Linked DNA regions of Homo sapiens. The protein of the gene in region 1 purifies or fractionates together with the protein of each later gene. This does not show direct contact. Each region holds a gene or a part of one and is shown on either strand. Other genes may lie near its edges.

Region 1 (5,397 bases):
TTAAAATAAGTTCTTCCAAAACAAAAACATATGCAGGAGACCTTTATTTTGTCAGTATTTCTTACCCAAATTTCTGCACTTAGAAAATTGCATGTCATGTTGTCATAAGTTGAAAAAAAGATCCATGAACCAATGGACTTCTAATAAAATCAGTCCTGCTTTTGACATCTCTCTCTACTTTTGTGTATATTCAAACCAGAGTGTCAATGTGTTTGTGGGGCACACTTAGCAATAATACATAGCAGACAAAATGCATATAGCTCAGAGAGTAAAATTGTAAGTTTTGCTAGATCACTCATAAATTGCTGATGAGAATTTAAAATGGTGCAGATGCTCTGGAAAACAGGCAGTTTCTTTCTTTCTTTTTTTTTTTCTTTTTGAGACAGGGTCTCACTCTGTTGCGCAGGCTGGAGTACAGTGGCGTGATTACAACTCACTGCAGCCTCACCCTCCTCAGGTTCAGGTGATCCTCCCTCAGTCTCCTGAGTAGCTGGGACTATAGGCATGCACCACCACGCCTGGCTAATTTTTGTATTTTTTTTTTTTTTTTTTGTAGAGACGGGGTTTCGCCATGTTTCCCAGGCTGGTCTCAAACTCCTGGAATCAAGCGATCCACTTGCGTAGGCCTCCCAAAGTGCTGGGATTACGGGCGTGAGCTACTGTGCCTGGCCTAGGCAGTTTGTTTGTTTGTTTGTTTGTTTGTTTATTTATTTGTAGACGGAGTCTCACAGGCTGGAGTGCAGTGGCCCAATTTTTGGCTCACTGCAACCTCCGCCTCCCAGGTTCAAGCTATTCTCCTGCCTCAGCCTCCTGAGTAGCTGGGATGACAGGTGCCTGCCATAATGCCTGGCTGATTTTTGTATATTTAGTAGATATGGGGTTTCACCATGTTGGTCAGGCTGGTTTTGAACTCCTGACCTCAGGTGATCAGCCCGCCTCGGCCTCCCAAAGTGCTGGGATTACAGGCATGAGCCGTCATCCCTGGCTGGTGGTTTCTTATGACGTGAAACATGCAATTACCATATGACCTAGCAGTTGCACTCTGTATTTATCCCAGATAAATGAAAACTTACCTTCCAATAAAAACCTGTGCACAAATGTTCATAGCAGCTTAATATTGAAAAACTGGATGTTCTTCAGCAGGTGAATGAACTGGTTCATTCATACCATGGAATACCATTCAGCAATAAAAAGGAACAAACTGTTGATACATTTAACCACCTGGATGAATATCAAGGGAATTATGCTGTCAGACAAAAACCAGTCCCTAAAGACTACATATAGTATGATTCCGTTTGGATAATATTCTTGAAATAGAGAAATTAAGAGAAATGAAAAGATTAGTGTTTGCCAGATGTTAGAGACAGGGAGGTGAGAGGGGTAAGTGGGTGTAGTTATAAAAGTGCAACATGAGGGATCTTTGTGATGTTGAAGTTGTATCTTGGCAGTGGATGCAGAAATCTCAATGTGATAAAATTACAAAGAACTAAAAACAAGAATGAGTATAGATAAAACTGGGGAAATCTGAACAAGTTAGAGTGTTGTATCACTGTCAGTATCTTAGAGTGATATTGTACTATAGCTTTGCAAGATGTTACCATGGGAGAAACTAAAGTGTACAAGGGATCTCTAGGTATTATTATTTTTTTAGAGATGGGGTTTCACTATGTTCCCCAGGCCGGTCTTGAACTCCTGGGCTCTAGTGATCCGCCTGCCCCAGCCTCCTAAAGTACTGGAATTACAGGCGTGAGCGACCATGCCTGGCCCTTTCAGTATTGTATCTTAGAACTTCATGTGAATCTAGCATTATCTCATAGAATTTAATTAAAAGAAATTGTAAACCTCACAGAAGATCAGAATTTCCTCAAGTTTGTGATGTTGACAAAGATGAACTAGTTGACACTGACAGTAAGACTGAGGATGAAGACACGACGTGCTTCAAAAAAATGATTTGAATATCAATGGATTAAGAAGAACTCTTTTGACAAATTGATGAAACCCTCAGTCAGTTTTATAAGAATGCCCATCTTTATGATCATGCTATGAAAGCCAATTTTTAAAAAAATTTTTTGTCTTTCCTAACAATTAGCTTGTGGTTATAATTTAAATTTAGTTAAATATAAGATAAATGATTTTTTATTAAGTTTAGTTTCATTTTTCAAGGTACGATCTCAAAGCTACTCTTTAACCTACTATGAATGAATAATGCTGAGTTCATAACATCTTTGTAGATATATCCACAATTTTCCCTCAGGATAAGTGCCTACAAGTGGAATTACTGGACTGAAAATAATGCAGTTTGCTAAGACTTTGCTATCTGTTCCTGAATGCTCCTCCAAAAAGGTTTTGCCAGTTTACATCCTCATGACCAGCGAATGAGAGTGTTGCCTATTTTCCTGTGCCCTTGTTACTGCTTAATAATTTTTGAAAAAAATCTAATTTGACAGACAAAAATGCATTTTATGTTAATTTGCTTTTCTGGGATTTTTAATGAGGTTGAGTATAGTTTTTAATATTTTTATTGGCCCCTTTGGAACTAGTATCATAAGTTTTTTTTCTTAAGAATTTATGTAGTCTGGGCTGGGCGCAGTGGCTCACGCCTGCAATCCCAGCACTTTGGGAGGCCGAGGTGGGTGGATTGCCGAAGGTCAGGAGTTTGAGACCATCCTGACCAACATGGTGAAACCGAATCTCTACTAAAAGTACAAAAACTAGCTCAGCGTGGTGGCGGGTGCCTGTAATCCCAGCTACTTAGGAGGCTGAGTCAAGAGAATCGCTTGAACCCGGGAGGTGGAGGTTGGTTGCATTGAGCCGAGATCGCGCCATTGCTCTCCAGCCTAGGCAACAAGAGTGAAAAGTCTCAAAAAAAAAAAAAAAAAAAAAAAAAAGAATTTACATGGTCTGAATTGCCATTAAAAGAGATATGAGAATTATTGAGTAACAAATAACTTTTTAATAATTTAGGCAAGTTTTGGACGATTGTACTTTGTTTAGAAACCAAAAGCATAGTATTTGTAGTTTTTTTATTTACTTTAGTTGCTAGGAAGTAAACTTTATTCAAGGTCTCTGGTACCAGTTGTTGCTAAAAGTGATTGACTAATCTGTCAATCTGAAATTATTTGTTGCTGAACTGCTAATTCTTTTGCTTCTATCTTTTAGGCAGATCTTGTCTGGACTACCAGACTCAAGAGACCAAATCAAGCCTTTCTAAGACCCTTGAACAAGTCTTGCACGACACTATTGTCCTCCCTTACTTCATTCAATTCATGGAACTTCGGCGAATGGAGCATTTGGTGAAATTTTGGTTAGAGGCTGAAAGTTTTCATTCAACAACTTGGTCGCGAATAAGAGCACACAGTCTAAACACAGTGAAGCAGAGCTCACTGGCTGAGCCTGTCTCTCCATCTAAAAAGCATGAAACTACAGCGTCTTTTTTAACTGATTCTCTTGATAAGAGATTGGAGGATTCTGGCTCAGCACAGTTGTTTATGACTCATTCAGAAGGAATTGACCTGAATAATAGAACTAACAGCACTCAGAATCACTTGCTGCTTTCCCAGGAATGTGACAGTGCCCATTCTCTCCGTCTTGAAATGGCCAGAGCAGGAACTCACCAAGTTTCCATGGAAACCCAAGAATCTTCCTCTACACTTACAGTAGCCAGTAGAAATAGTCCCGCTTCTCCACTAAAAGAATTGTCAGGAAAACTAATGAAAAGTGAGTATGTGATTTTCTTGTGTGTACATATGTGTCTCACTTTCTTTTTTTAATTTACTAAGCAGAACTTCAGATGAGGAATAAAATGATTGGAATATTTTTTTTCTCCTCTAACTACTTGTAAATTTGGGAGAATTTGGAGAGTGTAGTAGAGTCAGATCAGTGTATGGAAAAGGAGCAGGAGTGACTGGACCTTCTAAGAAGTGTGTTATCAGAATTAGTAAATGAAGGGTCAAATGTCCTACTTTTCCCCTCCACTGATTTTGACATCAAACCATTATCCACATAGCCTTATTTCCTCCCTCGGTCTTAATTTTATTAATATTTTACTGCACTTTGCAGATAAAATTTTTAAAAAATTTTTAAAAATTGCCAATAAGTGACATTTATTAAGTTCAGTGCTTAGTGTATATTTGGATTTTATTTATTAGTCACAAGACCTTTGTGCAGGTAGTAGGCATGATTATCTTTTTTTTTTTGAGATGGAGTCTTGCTCTGTCGCCCAGGCTGGAGTGCAATGGCGCGGTCTCGGCTCACTGCAACCTCCGGGTTCATGCCATTCTCCTGCCTCAGCCTCCCAAATAGCTGGGACTACAGGCGCCTGCCACCACACCCGGCTAATTTTTTTGTATTTTTAGTAGAGACGGGGTTTCACCATGTTCGCCAGGATGGTCTCGATCTCCTGACTTTGTGATCCGCCTGCCTCGGCCTCCCAAAGTGCTGGGATTACAGGCATGAGCCACCGCGCCCGGACTGATTATCTTATTTACACATGAGAAAACCAGGGCTTAGAAAGGTTAGGTAACTTCCTCTAGGTTGTACAGTAAATGTGGACCTAGAAGCATTTTGACAAGAGCACCTGTTTTTTTTTCTTCTCTATTAGTTTAGAAATTATATACTCTTAATTATCACCTGGGATTTTGATTAGACAGCCTTCATGTTCTTTTTCATCTTAAATGTTCTTTGTGTCTTAAAGGGCTAAGTGATTTCTTCAGATCTTTTAGTTCACTCATTCTCAGTGAACTAAAATGAGGTCTAATCTGCTACTGAATCAAGTTTTCAGCATGTTATTTCCTTCCTCCCTCCCTCCCTCCTTCCTTCCCTCAACCAGGCTCCCGAGGAGCTGGGATTACAGGCGCCCGCCACCACTCCTGGCTAATTTTTATATTTTAGTAGAGACGGGGTTTCACCATGTTGGTCAGGCTGATCTTGAACTCCTGACCTCAAGTGACCCACCTGCCTCGGCCTCCCAAAGTGCTGGGATTACAGGCATGAATCACCACACCTGACGGCATGTTATTTTCATCGCAAAGTTACTGTAAGCTGGGAGAAGTGGCACACACTTGTACTCCCAGCTACTCAGGAAGCTTAAGGTGAGAAGATTGCTTGAGCCCAGGAGTTTTGAGACCAACCTGGGCAACACAGCAAGACCCCAGCTCAAACAAAGAAAAAAAGTTATTGAATTTTTTATTTCTATGGATCATTTTTTGTAGTTTCTTATTCCTTTCACCCTTCATTCCCACTTTTGATCCCATCTTTTATTTATTTAGTTTTATTAAATGTATATTTGTCTGATAATTCTGCTATCTACAGTTTTTTGTGGACCTGACTCAGCATTTCTTTGTTTCTTCGGATTCAGACTGTTGGTGGCTTGTGATTTTAGTGATTTTTGGCCGTGAA
Region 2 (4,210 bases), on another chromosome or scaffold:
ACAGGCGTTGAGCCACTGCACCCGGCCAAGAGAGGTTGATTCTAAGACCTGCAGGCATCTCCCACTCTCCATCTGACTTTGAATTCCTGCCTAGTCTGCCGAGCAGGTCTGACCTTTGAAGCGCCCCGTCGCTGTCTTCCAGAGCAGGCAGCCATCGTGGATGAGTTTGCGCCTCAGAAGTTCCTCTCGGCCAAAGGGGCCCTTGCCAGGCACTGGGGTTTGGGCCCGAGGGTCCATGCGGTTGTAGATCTCCTGCAGACGGGCCCCTTTCTCCAGCTGATAAATACCCTCGTCCACATTGGACAGCAGCTCCTTCACTAGCCCCAGTGCTGTGGTCAGGTCCTGGCGCTCCTCCTCGATCCCTGGCACCGGGGGTTGGCATGGGGAACGGCTCAACCAGTTTCACTCACACCCCAGTTCCCATCGTGTCTTGATTCCACCTTTAGAGGCTGCCCAGGGTTTCACACCCGACCCCACCCTTCCTGTGGTCATACCGAGCCTTTCCTCACCCCAGGTGGCCGTCTCCCAGTGGCCCTCTCCTGGGCCTGCCTACTCACCGTGGGAATGCTGCAGGATGCGGCTGATGAGTAACGGGTACTTGGTGATGCGCTGAGTCACCAGCAGGATGCACTCCTGTACCCCGTGCCGCTTGAGCACGGCGGGGCGGGTCACTTTCTACAAGGGAGGAGGCAGGGCTCAGGGCCAGAGGGGAGGGCAACAGAAAGGCCTGGGGCCTGAGCTCTGGTGCTGGCCCTGGCGTGGCCATTTACCTCATGCTTGCCTAGGTGACATATCTGGAAAATGGGGATAACAACGCCACAGGTTTGTTGTGAGGACCAACTGAAGGAGCAAAAAGTACTTGGGAAACTACCACAACGTGCTCTAGCATTCTGAGGGGTTACTGCTGACAGGATCTGTGTATGGATGGTCTGCACGGGTGGCGAATGCCTGACCTCCATGTGGGTGCAGCTCACAGGCACTACCCCCATGAGTTGGGGAGGGTGGGTTTGGGCCATGAGCATGGGATCTGGAGAGGTCCGCTCACCCGGATGAATTGCTGGAAGCGTTTGTCTCGGGCGTACAGCTCCTTATAGAGCTTTAAGGCCTTGCTGTGGCGGCTGCAGAACTCCGAGTAGGTCTTACACATCTGCTCCGCACTAGGACCTGAGAACTAGAAGTTGGTCGAGTAAGGTTAGGTCAGCATTCCCCCAAAGCCACACTTTACCCACTGGACACACCTCTGGCCTCCTGCCAAACAGGCTGGCTTCCTGTTTCTCCAGCTCTCCCTGGCTCCCCTCCAACCCCTAGAATTTGGACCCAAGAAATGCCCAACCCAGTCACACCTCCTTCCATGAATGTCACCCAGGGGTCCTGCCTTTTCCCACCTGGCTGATGAGCAGATCACCCAAGCGATGGATGACAAAGTTCCGGGTGCTGCCAGGGCACAGGGCCTGGCGTCGGCGTTCTAATAGCTGGCTGAGGAAGCGTGTATGGATGTCACTGAGCTCGTCCACGCAGGGGAACAGGCCCTGGACCACTCCTGGCTCCAAGTGTAGCTCTTCCAGCATCCCCGTGCGGAAGAGGCGGGTCATGATCTTCAGTGTCCTCACATGGTGCAGCTCTGTCTGGATTAGCTCTGTGGGGGACATTGGGACATTTGGCCTCTACCCTGGCTTGGCTAAAACTCGTGGGGCCCTAGGATAAGGACCTCACAGTTCACGTGAGGTTTTCAAGGTCCATTCCAGGTTAATATTCTGCATTATTATGATCTTAGATACTTTTCTAATCATTTTTATCTTTTTTTTTTTTTTTTTTTGAGACAGAGTCTCACTGTATTGCCCAGGCTGGAGTGCAATGGCGCGATCTCAGCTCACTGCAACCTCCACCTCCTAGGTTCGAGCAGTTGTCCTGCCTCAGCCTCCTGAGTAGCTGGGATTACAGGCACGCACCACCAGGCCCGGCTAATTTTTGTATTTTTAGTAGAGATGGGGTTTCTTCATATTGGTCAGGCTGGTCTCGAAATCCTGACCTCGTGATCTCCCCACCTCGGCCTCCCAAAGTGCTGGGATTACAGGCATGAGCCACCACACCCGGCCCTCATTTTTATCTTTCAAAAATTTTATTATTATTTTTTTTTTTCCAGAAATGAGGTCTTACTCTGGTGCCCAGGCTGGAGTGTAGTGGCACAATGATAACTCACTGCAGCCTCGAACTTCTGGGCTCAAGCGATCCTCCTGTCTCAGCCTCCCAAGTAGCTGGGACTATAGGCACATGCCACCACACCTGACTAGTTTTTTAAAATATTTTTTAAAGACGGCTGGGCACGGTGGCTCACGCCTATAATCCCAGCACTTTGGGAGGCCGAGGCGGGTGCATCACCTGAGGTCAGGTGTTCGAGACCAGCTTGGCCAACATGATGAAACCCTGTCTCTACTAAAAATGCAAAAATTAGCCGGGTGTAGTTGTAGGCGCCTGTAATCCCAGCTACTTGGGAGGCTGAGGCAGGAGAATTGCTTGAACCTGGGAGGCGGAGGTTGCAGTGAGCCGAGATAGCGCCAGTGCACTCCAGCATGGGCGACAGAGCAAGACTCTGCTTCAAAAAAAAAAAAAAAAAAAAAAAATATATATATATATATATATATATATATATACATATATATATATATATATTTTTTTTTTAGAGACAGAGGTCTTGCTTTGTTGCCTAGGTTGGTCTCAAAATCCTGGCGTCAAGTGATCCTCCCACCTCGGCCTCCCAAATCGCTGAGATTATAGGCATGAGCCACCACGCCCAGTTCCATTTTTTATCTTTACACCTTATCATCTCAAGCTGTGAGCTATTTTAGGGTAAGAACCATATGTCTTCTACATGTCGAGGCTTCCCACAGTCTCCAGCACGGTGTTAAGCGTGGAACAAGCACAGAGTAAAGACTGAAGACAGAGATAAAGAAGGGATAAAGAGAGGGTGTTGGAGACCAACAGCATCAAGAGGTAGGGACCTAGTGGGCAACCTGTGGGATACCAGGCAGGGTCTTGTAGGCCAAGAGGGAAAGGGTTTTGAGAGGTAGGGGCTGGTAGAAAGAAGGACACAGCCGGGTACGGTGGCTCACGCCTGTAATCCCAGCACTTTGGGAGGCTGAGGCGGGCAGATCACCTGAGGTCAGGAGTTTGAAACCAGCCTGGCTAACATGGTGAAACCCCGTCTCTACTAAAAATGCAAAACTTAGCCAGCATGGTGGCAGGCGCCTGTAATGAGAATCGCTTGAACCTGGGAGGTGGAGGCTGCAGTGAGCCGAGATCATGCCACTGCACTTCAGCCTGGTTGAGAGAGTGAGACTCCATCTCAAAAAAAAAAAAAAAAAGAAAAAGAAAAATAAAGAAGGAAGTAGATAAACAGGACCTGGTGAAGGAAGAGGAAGACTAGGGTGGTCTTGGCTTACCATAGATGACATCTTGCTGCTTCATCACCTCCTTTTTATGCTGCTGCAGGAAGCTGCTGTCCACAGCAAGACTCCAAGAGTCAGCTGCAAAGTCCTTCTCATCCATCTCAAAGTCACTCATCAGCTCACTGTAGATTACCTCTGCTGGACATTAGCAGGGCAAGCAACTCAGAGGTCTTGAGTTCCCTTCCCTGGGTCCCTGGCCCTTCTCTAGATCCCTTCCCTCCTTGTCCTTCCAGGCTACTCCCACCAGCCTCTCATCCCCCAGCCCCTCTTCATGTTCCTCAGGGCTCCCCTGGGCCCAGGCCTGCTCACCTTCGTCAATGAGGGATTCCACGGATAGGGTTCGGTTCCGCATGTTGAGGGAGTCTGTGGACTGTGAGAGGATCCGGCGCAGCCCCAGGGGAGACTCATCATTGAAATGTCTGAAGAAAGTGGAGGCTGTCTGCATCACCCCCAGTCGGGCAAAAGATCCCTTCCCAGGTAGGGAACCAAAGCCAGGATCCAAGAGGCGGTCCCCCTAAGTTCTCCTTATTTGTCTGTCTACAGTTCTGAACTCAGGGATGGAAAGGGACCTCTCAGCACCCCCTTGGCCTCCACTGCCACACTCTCTGGCTGCCCCTTTCCCCAAACAGAGGCTCACCCAGCAATGTTGGTGGTAGAAACACTCTTGGCTAAAGACAAGGAGGAGCGGCCACGGCGGGAGCCCAGGAGGGACTGCCGGAAGCTGTCGGAGGGGTAGATGGCCGAGCTTGGCCGCTCCCGGATGG

The links. The genes of interacting proteins can lie anywhere in the genome.
Region 2: the proteins of AKAP10 (region 1) and ARHGEF2 purify together in Homo sapiens (tandem affinity purification; one large-scale study listed by IntAct). This does not show direct contact.

What each region holds. Positions count from the first base shown.
Region 1 is NC_000017.11:19,956,334-19,961,730, reverse strand, and holds part of AKAP10 (A-kinase anchor protein 10, mitochondrial isoform 1 precursor), read left to right. Parts: intron 1-3,159; coding exon 3,160-3,717; intron 3,718-5,397. UniProt on the Homo sapiens protein: Differentially targeted protein that binds to type I and II regulatory subunits of protein kinase A and anchors them to the mitochondria or the plasma membrane.
Region 2 is NC_000001.11:155,961,548-155,965,757, forward strand, and holds part of ARHGEF2 (rho guanine nucleotide exchange factor 2), read right to left. Parts: coding exon 4,084-4,210; intron 3,866-4,083; coding exon 3,756-3,865; intron 3,585-3,755; coding exon 3,441-3,584; intron 1,637-3,440; coding exon 1,386-1,636; intron 1,172-1,385; coding exon 1,046-1,171; intron 676-1,045; coding exon 558-675; intron 363-557; coding exon 114-362; intron 1-113. UniProt on the Homo sapiens protein: Activates Rho-GTPases by promoting the exchange of GDP for GTP.